Linked DNA regions of Homo sapiens: region 2 is linked to region 1. Evidence: fine-mapped expression QTL. Tissue or cell type: aorta. Region 1 holds a variant in brackets; the other region holds the start of a gene. All regions are shown on one strand. Distances are from middle to middle.

Evidence for each region. PIP is the estimated chance that this variant, and not a neighbour inherited with it, causes the effect.
Region 2: CDH13 starts here. The variant in region 1 is fine-mapped to the expression of CDH13 in aorta (GTEx, PIP above 0.99). The same link has a PIP of 0.9 or more in tibial artery.

What each region holds. Positions count from the first base shown.
Region 1 is chr16:83,007,989-83,016,492 of GRCh38, reverse strand. All of the region lies in intron 2 of CDH13 (cadherin 13), which reads right to left. Among named protein-coding and RNA genes, the nearest start is that of MIR8058, 320 kb to the right of the region's middle. The variant T/C (reference allele first, on the strand shown) is at 4,308.
Region 2 is chr16:82,623,242-82,631,493 of GRCh38, reverse strand. CDH13 (cadherin 13) reads right to left here and starts at 4,525. Exons shown (of 14, transcript NM_001257.5): 1 at 4,357-4,525. The coding sequence starts at 4,401. RefSeq lists an enhancer at 1,241-2,440.

The DNA.
Region 1 (8,504 bases):
AAGATCCTTGAGGGCAAGAGCTTCCTACAGTTTTATCTCCATATCTCTGGCTAGGCTTGGTGCTAGCCCTAGAAGAGAGTTGGCAATCAAAAAATATTAGCAGACTCCTTTTGGTTGTAACCAATTAATTCATTTACCTCCTCCCTAATTGCAGTGTGTGAGATACTCATCAGCTGTGATTACAGATTGGTTCTGTCTAGTTGACAAGACTTTATCAGGAAATTAAAAGACAATGATTTGGCTTACAATACATGAAGCACAATTAATTCTTGTGTGCATACGTGGGTTTTCTGGTGTAAGCAAGAAAATAATCAGCCCTGTAGGCCATGCCTATTCATCCTCCAGTGGCCAAGTGATTTTTATTACATCCCTTAGGCCATATGGCATCATCTCTAGCTCCAGTCTCATGGGAATGAAGGATGCCTGCCAAGAGTGCCTTGCCACTTGTTAAAGGTATCTCATTTTTCTGTGATTTCTCCACTCGACAACAATAGCGCTCACATATTTCCTTAAGAAGTAAAAGCCAATGCAGCAGAAGGCTTTTGTGCTGCTTTCCACCCTATTTGAATTATCATGGGAAGTGCACAAGCCAAATGTAAATCATAGCTTTCCATCACAAGTGGCAACTTTTGCAATTGAATAATTCTTACATGGGATCTCAAGTACATTACTGTGATTATAGACAGCCCCATGTGTTTGGAAATGTTCTTTTTGCACATACCCACGGCAAGTCTAAGGTTCCTGAGATTTATTGCTCGTGCTTTTTCTTTATATATATATATATATATATATATATATATATATATATATATATACATACACACACACACACACATATATGCTGCAAGCTGAAGCATATGGTCCCCACAACTGTGATATTTACGATAATGAATCACAGATGTTTAAATGGATGTAATCTGAAAACAGTTAAATGCTAAGATGCTGGAATCTTACTGCAAACATTACAAAGTGAGGACCTTTGGATTATGTTGATTTTCAGATACTATCACCAGGAATACTACTTTACATATGCTGGGAAGATATCAGGCAGAAAAGAATGACACTTTTTTTTTTCTCTTTTTAGCAGTACGGTTTTCAAAATAACCAAGGAACTTTGAGGGTGGAGATTTGGTCATTCTATTGATCACTGAATTGCAGCGCCCTTTAGAATTAAGGGTGAGATTTCTCAGTGGATAGTCTTTAAATAGGTATACATCCTTTAACTCATATTATTTAATAGTCATTTTAAAATACAAAAATAATTAAAAATGGAATCAACTGAAGTGAAATAGGAGATGCAGCCTGTTACTATCTCAACAAGCCCTGACTTCCCCGATTAGCCACACATTTTGATTATTAAATTATTCTACCAAATTTGCAAGCTATATATACACTTAAACAGTTCAGTAGGTAGGTTTTCTCTTAATAGCTATTAAATACTTTTTACATCAGTTTATATAGATTGCTTTTTTATGACTGCATATTATCTCTTAGTATGGATCTATCTGCTCTCATTAAAGCAGTTCCCTATTGCTGAACACTGAGGTTTTCCGTTTCATTAATTACCAACTGTGTAGTAGTAAATGTAAATATACATATATATATACACAAACATATATATATACATATATATATACAAATATATATATACAAATATATATACAAATATATATATACAAATATATATACATATATATATACAAATATATATATATACATATATATATATATATATATATATATATATATTTTTTTTTTTTTTTAGATGGAGTCTCCCTCTGTTGCCCAAGCTGGAGTGCAGTGGTGCAATCTCAGCTCACTGCAACCTCTGCCTCCCAGGTTCAAGCAATTCTCCTGCCTCAGCCTCCCAAGTAGCTAGAATTACAGGCATGGGCCACCACTCGGCTAATTTTTTATTTTTAGTAGAGACAGGGTTTCACCATGTTGGCCAGGCTGGTCTTCAACTCCTGACCTCAAGTGATCTATCCGTCTTGGCCTCCCAAAGTGCTGAGATTACAGGCATAAGCCACCATGGTCGGCCACAAATACCTTTATACCTGGCTTTTATACATATATTTAAGTAGTTCAGAGCCATTCTGAAAGTGCTGATTCAAATGAAACGTCAGTTAAAATTTAGTTAGATGCTAAGTTTTTTTTTTTTTTTTTTTTTTTTATCGATTTGGGCTCTAAGAGTTGTCTCCTCACGCTAACGGTTGATAATACAATGTTTATTTTTGTTGGCCAATCTGATGGTTGGAAGAGAGTGTAGTATTAGTTTGAAAATTTTTCAATGAATGGGAAGGTTAGAGATTGTTTTATAATATCGGCAATTCTATTTCCTTTTTTTGTGTGTGTGAATTGCCTGATCTGTCAGAATATTCAGGAGTTCAACTTGTCATTACTTGTTCTTTTTGCTTTTTTCCTTATCAGACTGTGAACTTCTTGAGGGAAGAAAGTGTCTTGTTTGCCATTTTACCTCGAGTGTTTAGCAAAGGCCTGTTATATGTGTTTTATTGAATGAAGACGTGCTTATACAGATGAGGCTGATGTTTCTTTCTGTTATCACACAGCTGCTTACCAGAGTCCCAATTTCCAACAGGAAACTCAGGGCAAACCCTCCTTCTGTCTTTTGGATTCCTCCCTATGTTGTGTCTCTCTCACTAGAATAAAACCTCCATTCTTGCAGAGACCGGGCCATCCCAGCAACCCTTGTATCTCTCGCACTAGCACAGAGCTTGACAAACAGTAGCCACTCACCAGATATTTTATAAATGAATCAGACTTTTGTGATCTGTCAGATTGTCTCTATGTCAGGTATCACACTGACATCTAACTCTGAGGAATAGACAAGTTACTGACTTTCTGATTTTCTGTTCATCTGCTTTTCTGTGGTGAGATGGACAGGAGAAGAGGATTTATTTGGAGCTCTTCCTGAGGCTCTTAATCCCACTTGTGAGGATTGGGGTTTGAGGTGTGTACAGATCATGTGGAAGGGAAATGTGATTATGACACTGAAGCGTGGGCTTCATGGCTTGCTTGGTTTGTTTATGGCAGCTGCGTAAAGAAGGCTGCTCTGCTAACTCACTAGAGTGGGCCTAACTGAGATGCTGAATCCAGGAGCTGAACTCATACTCCTATAGGATGACACAAAGTTGTGAAGTCAGGCCTCCAAACCAGGAGTCTGGAATCTACAACCTGCATGTCAAATCCGGCCCACTACTGTTTTTGTAAATAAAGTTTTATTGGAATACAGCCACACTATTCACCTACATGTATATGGCTGCTTTTGAACTGCAACAGCAGAGTTGGATAGTTGCAACAGAATATCTCGCTCATAAGCCTTAAATATTTACTTTCTAATCCTTTTCAAAATAAGTTTGTTGATCACTGCTGTAGGCCAAGGTCATATTTTTTCTCGCATTTTGCAAGAGATCTGCTCTAAGCCACCTAAGTGCTCAGGCAAGTAAACTCATCCACAGTGTATTCTGCACCATCAGTTCCATGATTAACCACAAAGACAATCAGCAGAGTGGGGAAAATGATTCACAAACACCTGAATGTTATCTCTATGCATGTGTATTGTATTGCCTTTAATTTTTTAAATTACAATCTGCTGGGAGATATTTTCCATTTAAAATAAATTCTCAAGAGGCTTAACTTTTTAAATACACTTAAAAATCCATTATCTGTAGTCTTTAAATATATGGACAAGCACTTACAGAGAAAATAAATATACCCTGAAGTGCCAAATGGAACTGTATCTATAATTTCGGTATCAAAAGGAATAATTTAATTTAGAACCAAACAATTAGCTGGGAATCATGCTTAGATCAAGTTCGGGTGCAAAACTGTTTGTCTTCAAGGTCTGTTTCCCATACTTAAAGTGATCCGTTATCTTTTAATATGATTTGTCATATATATATAGTTTTTTCTTGTAGAGAGTCTGTCATTATTTTCCCCCAAATGACGAAGATGTCTAATTTTTCTGCACTGTGTAAGTGAAACCATTTGAAAATTTAGCCTCTTGGAAAATGAAATGGGAATTACATAGCCCAAAGGTGGTAGGAAAATAGCGATTTTATTTTATATTTTCCTTGGACCAGGGCTTACTTCATTAGAAGAAAGCAAAGCACTATTTCTTTGAGCAAAGGGGCCAAAAAAAAAAAAAAAAAAAGGAAAGAAACCAAACAACCCCCAAATTGTTTTAACATCTCTCTAAATTTAGATGCTATATTTGGAAAATTGAAAAGAGATAGTCACTGTGTATTTTAAGTACTTAAAAATCCAAAGAACTCAGAAAAATATTG[T/C]GTTTAAACTATAACACATATTTCATCTGTAATTTTATAAGTTATTCTTGGATAGTTTTCTGAATTCCTAAAGTTTTTTAAGCCAGTGTATCACCAATGAGTTCCTCTTTCAACTTTCAAATGGTCCTGGGTAACACAGACCTAGTCCTGGGCTGGGGAAAGGGCGTAAAATTAAAATCTAGTGATCTGAACACAAAAAGAGTGGGTGAGAAATAAAAGGAGAATAAGGCAGCGTTACTCACTCTTTCATTAATAATAACTTTGAAAATATTAATAATAGCTGTAATGAACGAAACAGTTGTTCAACCCCAACTCCCCTCTAAGAAAGAAAGGTAGATCCAGCAAAGAGCAAGACCCTTTGTTCTGCTGAACTGAACACTTGCTGGGTTTGGCTGTAGAAGTTTGGGAGAGTAAAATAGCGATTGCTGAAGAGCATTGGAAAATGAAAGCTTAACTGGGAGTAGAAGAAGAAGGGAAGAAAGGAAAGGGCCGGAAAGGTGGTAGAAGATCACACAGGTGTCCCCTGGTCCCCGAACCCTCAGTGGCATTCACCTTGCTCAGTGATATGTGTGTATGCATGTTTCTTGTGCAACCTGGTACAGGAGCCACGTTTTACCGCCCGGTTGACTCAGATGGGGAAAGAGACAGCCTTTCAAGCACAGGACCCAGAAGCAACATGGGTCATGACAGTACAAGCCCCTGGGGATTACCATATGTGAGAGGAAGGGCTTTCGATTTGCACTACTTGTAGAAGTTGAGGGCTCACCTTCTTTCAGACTAATTCCCTGGGGATTGAATGTGCTCATGAGGTCTGGTTTATATTTAATATTTATTCAGCCCTTTCCATGAGCTGAACAGTGTGCTAAGACTTTGCAAGCATGACGTCATCATTTTAAGAGCTTTTTACAACTCTGTGTGATATTACTATTATTTCTCCACTTAATAGAGGGAGAAACTGAGCCTACAGTGAAGCTGTGTGGTAGATGTAGAAAAACCTAGTCTCCAAACAACCTGCTTGGCTTCGAAGCTCACACCCCTTACTACTTTGTCCTGCTGTCTCATACTCAGTAAACTGAGCCCCAAAGATTGTGCTGTGTTCCATGAGCATGAAACAGAAGAAACGTTCCACACCATCTTTATTTATCATGACTCTGGCCAGTGAGTAAGCCATTTAAAATTAGGCGACGATGTTGCATGTTCTACGCATTAGAAGTGTGAACTAAGTGCTCTGGAAAGAAAAGAAGGAGCCATCTGGTTTGAGCTTCAGCCACAAAATGCTAAGAAATTACATTTAAGTTTCGCCTTAAAGAATGGGGAGAACCAAAGAGCTGTTTGCTACAACCAACTGCACGTAAGCTCCACTACTAGTAAATGACATTAAATATGAACAAGTAGATGTCCCCGCAGGATGTTTCTAATCATAGGTTCACAAACCCACCACTGATTCCTTTTTTAGAAAAAATAAGTATTTCTTTTGATTCAGTAGGGCTCTGGGTAACAACCATTAGGGACTTCATCAGCCCTGTTTGCAGCAGATTCACCCACAAGGAGGTATTTCTGAAAATATTCTGGACAACTACAAAGTGCAACAGAAATTTCAAAGTGGAAAGGAAAGAAAAAGGGCAGGAGAAATAAAATGTGTGTGTGTGAATGAGTGGGGTTCCTCTTCATTAAGTGCTCAAAAGGAGATAAATCAGGAGAAAGTGAGAGCACAACATTACCTATGGTTTATACTCTTGAATTAAAACAAGCAAAGGGGCCAAAAAAACCCTACATTTCCATTTCTGACAGTCGTGCATCTCTGTCATTCAAGCTTTCTCTTACAGTTAATGCAGGTGGGAGGGGTATTAACTGATCATTGAAAATAGTGTTAACCTCTCTGACCTCCAATTTGTTCTTGCAAAAATGATGGGATTGGCGTGGACCAAGGATTCTCAAAGTGCTGTGCCAGGATCAGCAGCATGAGCAGCCTTAGGAGCTTGTTAGAAATGCAGATTTTTGGCCCCTACCTGAGCCATTCTTGTTTTTTTTTTTTTTTTTTTTTTTTTTTGAGACAGAGTTTTGCTCTTGTTGCCCAGCCTGGAGTGCAATGGTGTGATCTCAGCTCACTGCAACCTCCACCTCCTGGGTTGAAGTGATTCTCCTGCCTCAGCCTCCTGAGTAGCTGGGATTACAGGCGTGTGCCGCCATGCCCAGCTAATTTTTTGTATTTTTAGTAGAGACAGGGTTTCACCATGTTGGCCAGGCTGGTCAAGAACTCCCGACCTCAGGTGATCCACCTGCCTTGGCCTCCCAAAGTGCTGAGATTACAGGCGTGAGCCACTGCACCCGGCCTGAGCCATTCTAATCAGAATCTTTGGGGATAGAGCCCAGCAGTCTGTATTTGTTCATGCTCAAGTGTGACAACACTTGATAATATTTAATTTCCTAGATGGCATAATCTCCTAAATGCTTGTACAGCTACATGACTCAGTGGGTTTATTAAATATACATTATCCACCATCAAATATGCACTAATAGATACAATTTTTTAAAAAGAACAGCTATTAAATATGCAGAGAGAATATTGGCTTTGGAGTCAGAGTGGTCCTGGGTTCAGATGTAAAGAGTACTGCTACTCAGCCATATGAGACTTTGCAGGGTATCTCTGATCCTCAATTTGATGATCTATAAAATGGGAATCATGATGCCTGCTGTCTAGAATTGTCTGGAGGAAAAAAAGTGAGAGAATGTAAAGCATCCATTACATAGAAAGACACCTACAATAGTTGCAAGTGTAATTTCATTAAAATAACAAACTCAACCACAGTTCACTGCTCCTCTCTTTGAATAAATATCATAATCTAAACAAATGAAAGAGACACCTCTTACTGATCCACTCTGCTTAAATCAAGAGCACTGGTTTTCTGTGTCACTGTCTCCAGAAGTAGCCCCTCTCAGAAGATGACAAAATACTGGATGCTAATATCAAAAGACCCAATTAAGTGTCATTCAGTCATTCATTCTCTTGAATGAAGTAGACATGGACTATGATCTGGTTTGGCTGTGTCTTCACCCATATTTCATCTTGAATTATACTTTCCATAATCCCCACATGGGGTAGAAAGGACCCGGTGGGGGTGGAATTGAATAATGGCAGTAGTTTCCCCCATGCTGTTGTCATGATAGTGAGTTCTCACGAGATCTGATGGTTTTATAAGGGGCTTCCCGCTTCACTCAGCTCTCATTCTTCCTCCTGCCACCAAGTGAAGATGGACGTGTTTGCTTCCCCTTCCACCATAATTCTACCTTTCCTGAGACCTCCCCAGCCATGCTGAACTGTGAGTCAATGAAACCTCTTTCTTCCATAAATTACTCAGTCTTGGGCATGTCTTTATTAGCAGTGTCAGAATGGACTAATATAGAATAATCTGTGAAGATGAAAGGAAGGAGGGAGAAAGAGAGGAAGGCCTCGTTCTGGCACAGGCCACCATGATCTTCTGCCTGGGTTACGGTGGTAAGCTCCTCACTGATTTCCCAATCCCTCATCCACCCATCTCCCACACCCAGTGGTCTCAACACAGCAAAGGTCCAAGTATAACATTATGTTTGTGTCACTCGTCTACTGAAAACCACCTAATTAGGAGTTAAAGTTCCTGTTCTAACCTACAGCCTTCTCCATAACATACTTTGTTGTACGCATTTTGTGCTACTCTCACCCTCACTCAGTCACTCGGCCCCACTGGTCTCCTAGTTCTTCCTCAATCCCCCAGGCATTCTCCGCCTCAGGGCCTTTGCATCTGCTGTACTTTCTGCCTACAGTGCAATTCCCCCACATTTCCAAGGCTCCCCTGCATAACTTCCTAACTTCCTTCTGGCATCTACTCAAAGGTCACCTTTGTTATCTGCCCCTTCCTGGACAGCCCATCTAACATTTCAATACATGTTTACCCTGACATTTCTCTGCTATTTTTTTTCTCCTTAGCACTTCTTATTATTAAAACGTATCCCATAGTATGTTTTTGTTATTTATACTATTTATTGTCTGCCTCTTTCACGAGAATGTAAGCTTAAGGTATCATAAAGTCCTGGAAAATACCTCATACATGGTAGCTCTCTAAACATAATGAATCAATGAAGGAATGGGTTGATTTCCTTCATTTCCGTGTCTTCTCTTAGCAACTATGATCCATCAATCACTTAATGATGAATGAAAAT
Region 2 (8,252 bases), 380 kb after region 1:
GTCACTTGGTTTGATTCTGTCCAGCTGATTATTGTAATTGGATGACAGGGGGATATTTCCTTCTCCTTTTCAATGAGTGATGGAAAGTGAGTGGACCTAGCTCAGGAGTCACCCTTCTGGGTGGTTATGTAAGGGGGAAGGTTATCTCCTTCCACAGGCAGAACTGTTCCTGCCTTTTGGCTACCTAAAGAATGAAATCAAGTCCAACCAAAGTCAAATGCCAGGAAATTTCAGAACTTCCTCACATTGCGTATTGCACCGTCTACAAACATCTTTGAAATTTTCCCTGCTCCAATACTCAGAGGGGATACAGAGTCAAAGAATGAATTAGAACAGAACCAACTACAATAGGGGAAAAGAAAGAAAGCAAGAAGAAAGCTAGCGAGAAAGCAAGAGAGCAAAAGAAGGAAAGCAAGAAAGAGAGAGACACAGAAATAAATACAGTGAAAAATGGCAGGATTTCTCATTTGGGGGTGATTGTGGCAATTAATGTGGAATAAGGAGAATAGTTTTGTTTTGATGGAGTTGCTGCATTGAAGTTCTTTAAAATGAGCTGTAGATTCAGAATTTTGTAATGCTGTGGATGGAGCCCTCTTCTGGAGAAATTTTTCAACAGGTATTACAAGATCAAAATGCAGAGATGTACACACTCACTCAGACGCGCACACAGAAACACTGTTGGCTACGTAGATGATATGACTGTCATTCAGGTGTAAATTAAATCCATAGTTTGTCCTTTTCCTACATTCCACTAAATATAAATTAACTAGACTCCCCAAGCAATTGTATTTTTGGAAGGAAATAAGGATGTTTTCAAGAACCTAGCTACACTTTAACCTAAACATTGAACTTCAGATTGAGGCTCAGTTTACACATCCAAGTGCTGATGCTTTTAGATAATGCAGTTATTGAGTATGTTGGTTTGTTGGGCAATTTCACTATAACACATAGAGGATACTTCTGGAAGTAAACAGATTTTACTTAACGGAAAACCCAAGGGCTAAAGATAGAAAAGGGGAGAAGGGAGGGAGGCAGAGTAGGAGCGATCAGCTAAGATGACTGTTGGGGCTTTTAGTATAGACTGTGGAATTACACAAATTCCAGATTACATACTCAGCTTTGCAGTTTATTAAACCTGTTTTGGGACTTGCTAAAAAAAAATATTCAGACAGGTGAACTCTATCACTGACTCCTTTCACTACATATTCCATTTCCCTAGTGCTCTGGAAATCTTACAGGCTGTCATGTATTGACCCTAGGGGGGGAGGGGGCAGCACCCTCTTCAACCCTGTGTCCTTTTCCTCATCCAAAAAGTTCTGCAAATAAACACTGCTCTTAAAACATAACACACAAATTTGCAGGAGCACTATAAGACACTGATTCTCATTGAAAATCCTGAAAATCAAGACTCTGACCCCTAGAGAGAACTCCCCACTTTATAGCGAAATCTCAGAATTCCATGGAACATTTTCAGTCACTCCCAAGCGACTGTCCTCCAAGCCTGAACCCCTCCCTAAATTCCTAATTCTTGGGGGATTACTCACTCATTGTTAGAACTTTTGGTTAGTTGTAAGTGCTACCCAAATAGGGAGGGGAATCACATTTACCATGGAATTTCTTGCTCATTTCTTTCTTGATTTGTTTCACAGTCATTACTTATCATAGGCAAATTCCAGAAGCCACTTCTGGGACAGACTTTCCCAAAACACCCCAGGGGATAGGAGAGGTGACTGTTCAACGGTGCCAGCTTCCAGTCATTGTTGCTTAGAATTCCTCACCTCCTACCAAAATGCCTAAAACAACAACCAAGCCAATAAGCTTACAGAGATTGATGGCTTCCAAAGCCAGACCCGATGCTTTACAACTGTGGTGGAAAAAAACATACAGGCTTGCCTGAACACCACCAGGGCCGAGTGACTAATTTGTTTTATTACATTGTTTTTCCCTTCTGTTTTCTCTCTGCCTCAGGAAAGTTGTGTTTTTGCTCGTCGACTCAAGGCCTCGAAGACTTTCCCCACTTTTTTCTATGGCACACAGAGTTCTGCACGTGAACTTCTTGCTGGTTAACTGGATTGCATCAAAATGATTTCTCTGTGAGGTACTATTGCTACCAGGATATCAATTACTATCCTAATGTGGACATTTGCTCTGATATGCATAACAATTGAAAATAGAAATAAGCCTCTCAGGGCAATCATTTCAATTCACAGCAAAATCTCTGCTTCCTTCATCTAAATAAATAGAGTGAGCCTTCAGAACCCACCTGTGCCAGCCTGGCCCTGGGTGAGGAGACACACCAGTTCATTTGCAAAAAGAACCGTGCGCAGAGCCCTTAGTGCATAAAAATCGATCCTGGGGCCCTGTCACGTGGTCTGTCTTGCTTTAAAGGAGGCATAACTTTGGGCAAGCCCTGGAATATGAACTGAGGTTGAAACCTGCCAAGAAAGAAAGAGGACTGTGAAGTCCTGGACAAGGCAATGGTAAGTGCTCTCAGACACCGACAGCTCCCAGACTGGCATGCATTGCATAGGACATCCTGTTGAATGCAATCCTATCCACTCAGCAGTCCTAGGAAGGCAGCAGATTATTTTACAATGGAGAACTTGGAAGCTCAAAGAGGTTAAACAACTTGCCCGGGTTGGTACCACTAGCAGATGGCAGGAAGGATCTGTCTGAATCCTTTCTGTCTGAGGCATGCTCCAAACCGCCTTGCTAAATTGGGGTATATGTACACACATACAGCCTTGGGGTCTCTAGGGTACAGGACATCTGGAAAACTGGTTCACAGCCAGGCTTGGGATCCATGGCAAGACTCAAGGCTGTAGGGACCCCAAGATAATCAACCAGAAAAGCCTGGTAGAAAAGGAGCTATAACTGGGCAGTCCTTAATCGGGACTGTATATCCAAGAAAGAAGTCAGGAGCTTGGGAGCGGGCTCAGCAGCCGGGCACTTGAATCTCCCCTGGTACTATCACCCATCACTGCATTTCTGAGATGTTAGCCCATTTCCAAAGTCTAAACCCAACATTGCTCTAACAGTGGTCTCCCTTAGAAGTCTGCACCAGTCTCCCCATCCCAGACAGTCCCTACCTGGGAACCCAACTCCCTTCCCCTGCCTTTCACCCGCAAACTCTCACCTGAGCCTCTACCCCGGCCAGGAACTCAACACTCATTCCTAGCACCCTGAGGCACTCCCTGTCTCTTTCCCTCCTTACTCTGCCCGGCCCTGCCCTGCCCTGGCTCTTATCCACCCACTTGCAGGCTGCCAGCTCACTCCAAGTCCCAACGCCTGCCAGAGAGGCGATGGGGGACTGGATCGGGGTGCTCTCCGAAACCACAGGCCCCTGAGCAGCGCAGGGCGTGCCCCCCGCAGCGGCCAGCACCCCAGGCCTGGCCTCGGAGCGCTGCTTTCCTGCACTCAAACTTCCCGAAATCTCTGAGGTGCAGAGGTGACTGCAGGCGGACCGCATCTCCCTCGCCCCCTCTCCTGGTTGGCGTGCCCTTCCCTCGCGCCGTGGCGCTCTGAGGGTTAACAAGCAGCTGCAGCCCGGGTGGGCAAGGCTTGAACTTTTCTCTGCGCTCCGCTCCCGCTCAGGGAAGGCAGCAGAGGCGGCAGCCCGGGATCTGGCCGGAGCTCCAGCTGGCTGGACAATAGGGGTGCGGGGGGCTGGGGCCTGCGCCCTGGCGGGGGACACGCTCCGGCCCTTTCGGGCCCGGGGTCTGGGAGCAAAAGGACCCCGATGCGGGTGCGGCCGGCGCCGGCGCCTTTGAGCGACAGCAGCAGCCGGGCTGAGGCTCTCTGCTGCCCCGAGGCGCCTTCCAGCGGGCAGCCGGGCTGTACCAGGGGGCCCGGGCGCCCTGGGAAGTCGGTGGTGCCTGCTCGGCCTCTCCAGCCCCGCATCCCGCAATCCGGACCCGAGCAGCGCTTCGGCCGCTGGGCGTTGGGCTGGGGAAAACCGCGGCTCGTTGGAGTCGCCTCTAACTGAGTCTTTCTCCAATGCACCGAGCCTCCGGAGGAGGGAACCAAAGTTACCCCACTTGATGTGGGCGAGAATGTCGCCCCTGCTAGCAAAAAAGGACTGGGAGCTCTCTCCTCCTCCCGTTAACGAACGTACACACACACACACACACACACACACACACACACACACACACACGCACGCCAGAGTGGGAGCCTGTGTGTGGGGGGTGCCTAGGATCTCTGGGCTCGGAATGACCTCCCTACCGAGCCCCGATCTGTCTTCGCCGCCGCGACCGGAGGCCCCGACCCCCCGAAAGCCCCCTCACCCTGCCCGTGCCGGGCGATCCGAATGCAGAAACGGGGCGCAGAGCGCGCCCGGCAGCCCCTCTTCCCTACCTGGGACAGGAGAACGCACAGAACGAGCGGAGTTCTCGGCTGCATTTTGTCCGACTAGAAGCGCCCGGCGGCGTTTTCATTCATGCACGCGGCTGCACTGAGCATATTTTCCGTGGGAGCCAGGCTTTGAGGAGAGGCTCTGCCTCGCCAGCCAGCCAACTTCCCAAATAGATCAGCAGCAGCATCACGAAAGCATTGGGTAGAGGCTGATGACCAGGACCAATGGCTTTACAAGACGGATTCCTTCCTAACGCTCCCTCGTTTTGCATGGCAGATACGGGGTGAGCACCTCGCGAGGAGCGAGCCCCGCGGAGGTGGCATCCCATTTGCTTCTTTGGACTGTTGGGGCTCAGCCTCACAAATCACGCTGGGCAATGCCAGCTGATTCCACTTTTCCAGAGAATGGAATTGCACGGGGGACTGGCGGCCACTTCCAGCCTAGTGCAAAAAGATTCTCTTTATTAAAATGTTAATAAGATCCACTCTATTTCCAATAAATCAGATAAAATGGCCCCAGCAGTTCCAGCCCTTTCTACGCCTGGCAAGGCTTGGCAGTGGATTTTTTTTTTCTTTTTTCCTTTTTTCCCCCCACTGTGGCCCAAGTCATGATGGTGTTTGGTGCTTCCCTGCCATCTCACAAATCACAAAGATGACAGATCAATTCGAGCTTGCAGAAAAAATTCCATTAAGGGGCAATAGATTTTATTAACTGCTCAGGTGAGAGTCTGACTAGCCACCTACTCCTCAAATGTGCATCTGGCACCAAAGCTGGGATCTGGATCGGAAGGAACTTCTTTTTGTATATGGATGTTACCTTTCAGAAGCTCTGAACTACCTCCAGGTACTCAGAACAGCAGTAGTCACTGCTTAAGGGATTTTATAAATGGGGGGCTTTGGGACTGAGGGTAAGAGGGACATCTAGGTCTGCCTTCCCTAATAGGAATCTAAGAAAATGCAGGGAAGACCTTACTGTATCATTTCCATGCAGCCTTCCCTTAGAAAGAATTTAAGGTGTTTTACAATAAAGGACATTTGTGCAATAGAATTTATGAACCAAAATAGAAAATCTGGGCCAGAAGGAAAAGTTCAGCAAACTGAAATGACAAGCCCAAATTCTAATGTATTTGCTCTGATTTGGATAAGAGCTTCCTGATAGCCAAAGCAATAAAAGAAACATAAGTTACATAGTTTTGTTGTAGAAACATGCATACAATGTCTTTCAGCATTATTTTCCATGGGCTAAATACCGGAATAAATGCATTATGTAACACGTAACATAGCAGGACACTGAGCAATGGACCATGCCAAGATCCAGTGGATGGGGATGTATTTCTAGCATCTGGCACAGGGCCTGGAACATGGAGACAGCAATTAGTGTGTGTTAAAGAAATAGATGGCTAGACTCAATCAAGATGCAGCAGAAGGCAGGGAGGGGCAAGGAGTCTGGAGCCACATTGTCTAGGCACAGCCCCCGGATCTGCCACTTACTTGTAAATTACTCAAACTCTCTGCCTCCATTTGTTCACAGATAAAATGAAAACACAAATTCTACTGAACTCACAAGGTTGTGGTGAGGATTAAGTGATGACATAACCACTGAATAAATATAAAGTGATGTGCCTTTTAAGATTCCTTCATTGGCTGCTGTTTGGTCAGAAGGTCACCTCCTGTGGTCCCAAGGTCATTGATAAAGATGCAGTGATGTCTGAAGCTTGGCTGCTGTAGCCAGCACTGGCCCAACAGATGGCAATGTTGGCAAAACAACCCCCAGATGAAACTGGGAAAGGTGAATCTTGCTGCTTCACCCACTCATTTCCTTGCCTAAATAGGGTCATCTGTCCCTGAGCCTCTGATCAATACGGTCCGACAGATGACGTCACAGATCATGACACTTTGGAATCCATGTGTGTGGAGATCTAGCCTCACGTTTCCCACAGGTGGGAGTAAACCAGAGAACTTTGGAGTCAAACAGGCTTCAAATCAAGGCATCCTGAAATATCCGGACTTTTCTCCACTCCAGGGAAGGTGCCATCTTGTAATTCAGGGCCAGCTAAACTGAGTCCATGGCTTAGCAACACAAAGATAGGGAAAGAGAGCAGAGGACAGCTTGGGAGGTGATAAACCACAGTGAGGGACTAGACTGCAGAAGATGAGGATCTAGCTAGGTTTCCATCTGCAGCAGCTCAGTTAAGGGAAGCAGTCCCTCAGAAGAGGGAGTTTTCAAGGCTGTGTTCTAAGGACAGTTCGGTGCTGTCAGTTTTACAGTTCTGCTGGCCTTCTGTGGTCTCCCCATTCCCTTGTCCTTAGTGCTGATGACCAAATATTTCCAATTTTTCCCCTTTTGGGATCATGGTGGGATTGCATTTACTGGCCCCCTTGTTGCTGGGGTGGGGCAGTGTGTGTACATCTAGCCAATGAGCCATGTGCAAAAGTGCCATGTCCCTTCAAGCCTGGAGCATTTAATTGCCAGTGTCAGGCAGATTGGTTTCCCTGGACGTGCTTTTTGCCCCAGTATTTCCCCAAGGAGGGGAAAAATCTTGGGTGAGACAGCTTGGTTTGGCCAAGGGCAATTCTCTGGTTTGTCCTCAAATTCATCAACTATATATAAAAGGAGGCCATTGGCAGTACGACCAGTAATGAGAGTCTGTGATGCCCAGGCCATAGAAGACCTCATGAGTCTGATGCTACCAATTAAGATGGATGTCGTTTGGTGAAAATCCTGCTGACTCTGTCCCCTGCAAAGTCCTGCTCAGGCATTTGCAAAGGTCCCAGGCTTTTTTCCTGGGCTGTTCTGCTGGCAGGCAGAGTGGCTCCAGTAAACCTTGCCTGATTCCAGGTGGGTGTGCCCAAAGGGCCAGTCTTCACTCCTTCCTCACCTCAATCCCCACAGATTGGCTTTTAAGGAATGAGAGGAGTTGTCTTCTGGAGTCTCCCTAGGCATTGAGGCTCACTTCTGTAATCCCACGAGGTTCAAAACATGCCAAGCCTACTAAGGTGGAAAAAGATTTGTCAGAAAGATTAGACCTGAACTGAGATCTTCAGATTCCACATATATGAGGCAAGTCAGTTTGGTACCCTAAGACTCAGTATGTCATCAATAAAATGCGAATGATAACATGATAACACTCCCAGGACTGTTGTAAATATTGATGTTTCTCTTCCCCTCTATCATCTATTCCTCTCGACTTTCAGAGAACGTGCACTTCAACAAAGAACAAGAGATCATATTTTGTCCAACAAAGACAGAAGAAAAATTATTTCATTCCAATGATAAAAGGCTTCTGAAGAAGAAATCCATTCTTCGTTTTGCTTTGCTTTTTATTCAGTTCCCTAATAAGGGTTTTTTGGCTGATTAATTGATTGATGTGGCAAATAAATACTAAAGTTGAGCCCTACGTATCCCCACTCCACCGCCTACCCCGTATCATCCCCCGACCAAGCCCCAGCTGCTGTAGCATCTGTGGGCTCCTCAAGAAGCTGTGTCTGCCTTTAGACACATTCGAGGTTCACACCCCTTTTCCAGACGCATCAGCCTAGCTTTGGCACGGAGGGAATAATCCAACAGCCAGTAGCTGCCTCCTGTGGGTGCCAAGGGTTGAGTTTGTTTCCTGTCCTTGGCTGATGTTGATGAAGGCATTCCACAGTGGGTGGATGTGGCTGTGTGAGTGCGTGCATGTTCCTGTGTGTATGCATATAAGCACATGGGTGTGTGTGTGCTGGGGGGAGGGAGTGACTGGCATATAGTCCGGCAGAGATAATGTATTCAAATTTTGTTATGCTTTCAATGTGCTGCTATGATGAGGCATTTGTATAGAGCGGGATTAATCCAGCTAGGAGCCCTTATGCAACAACCCAGTGATTAGGCGTGTCTGGGGACCTGGATAACAGAGACCCAC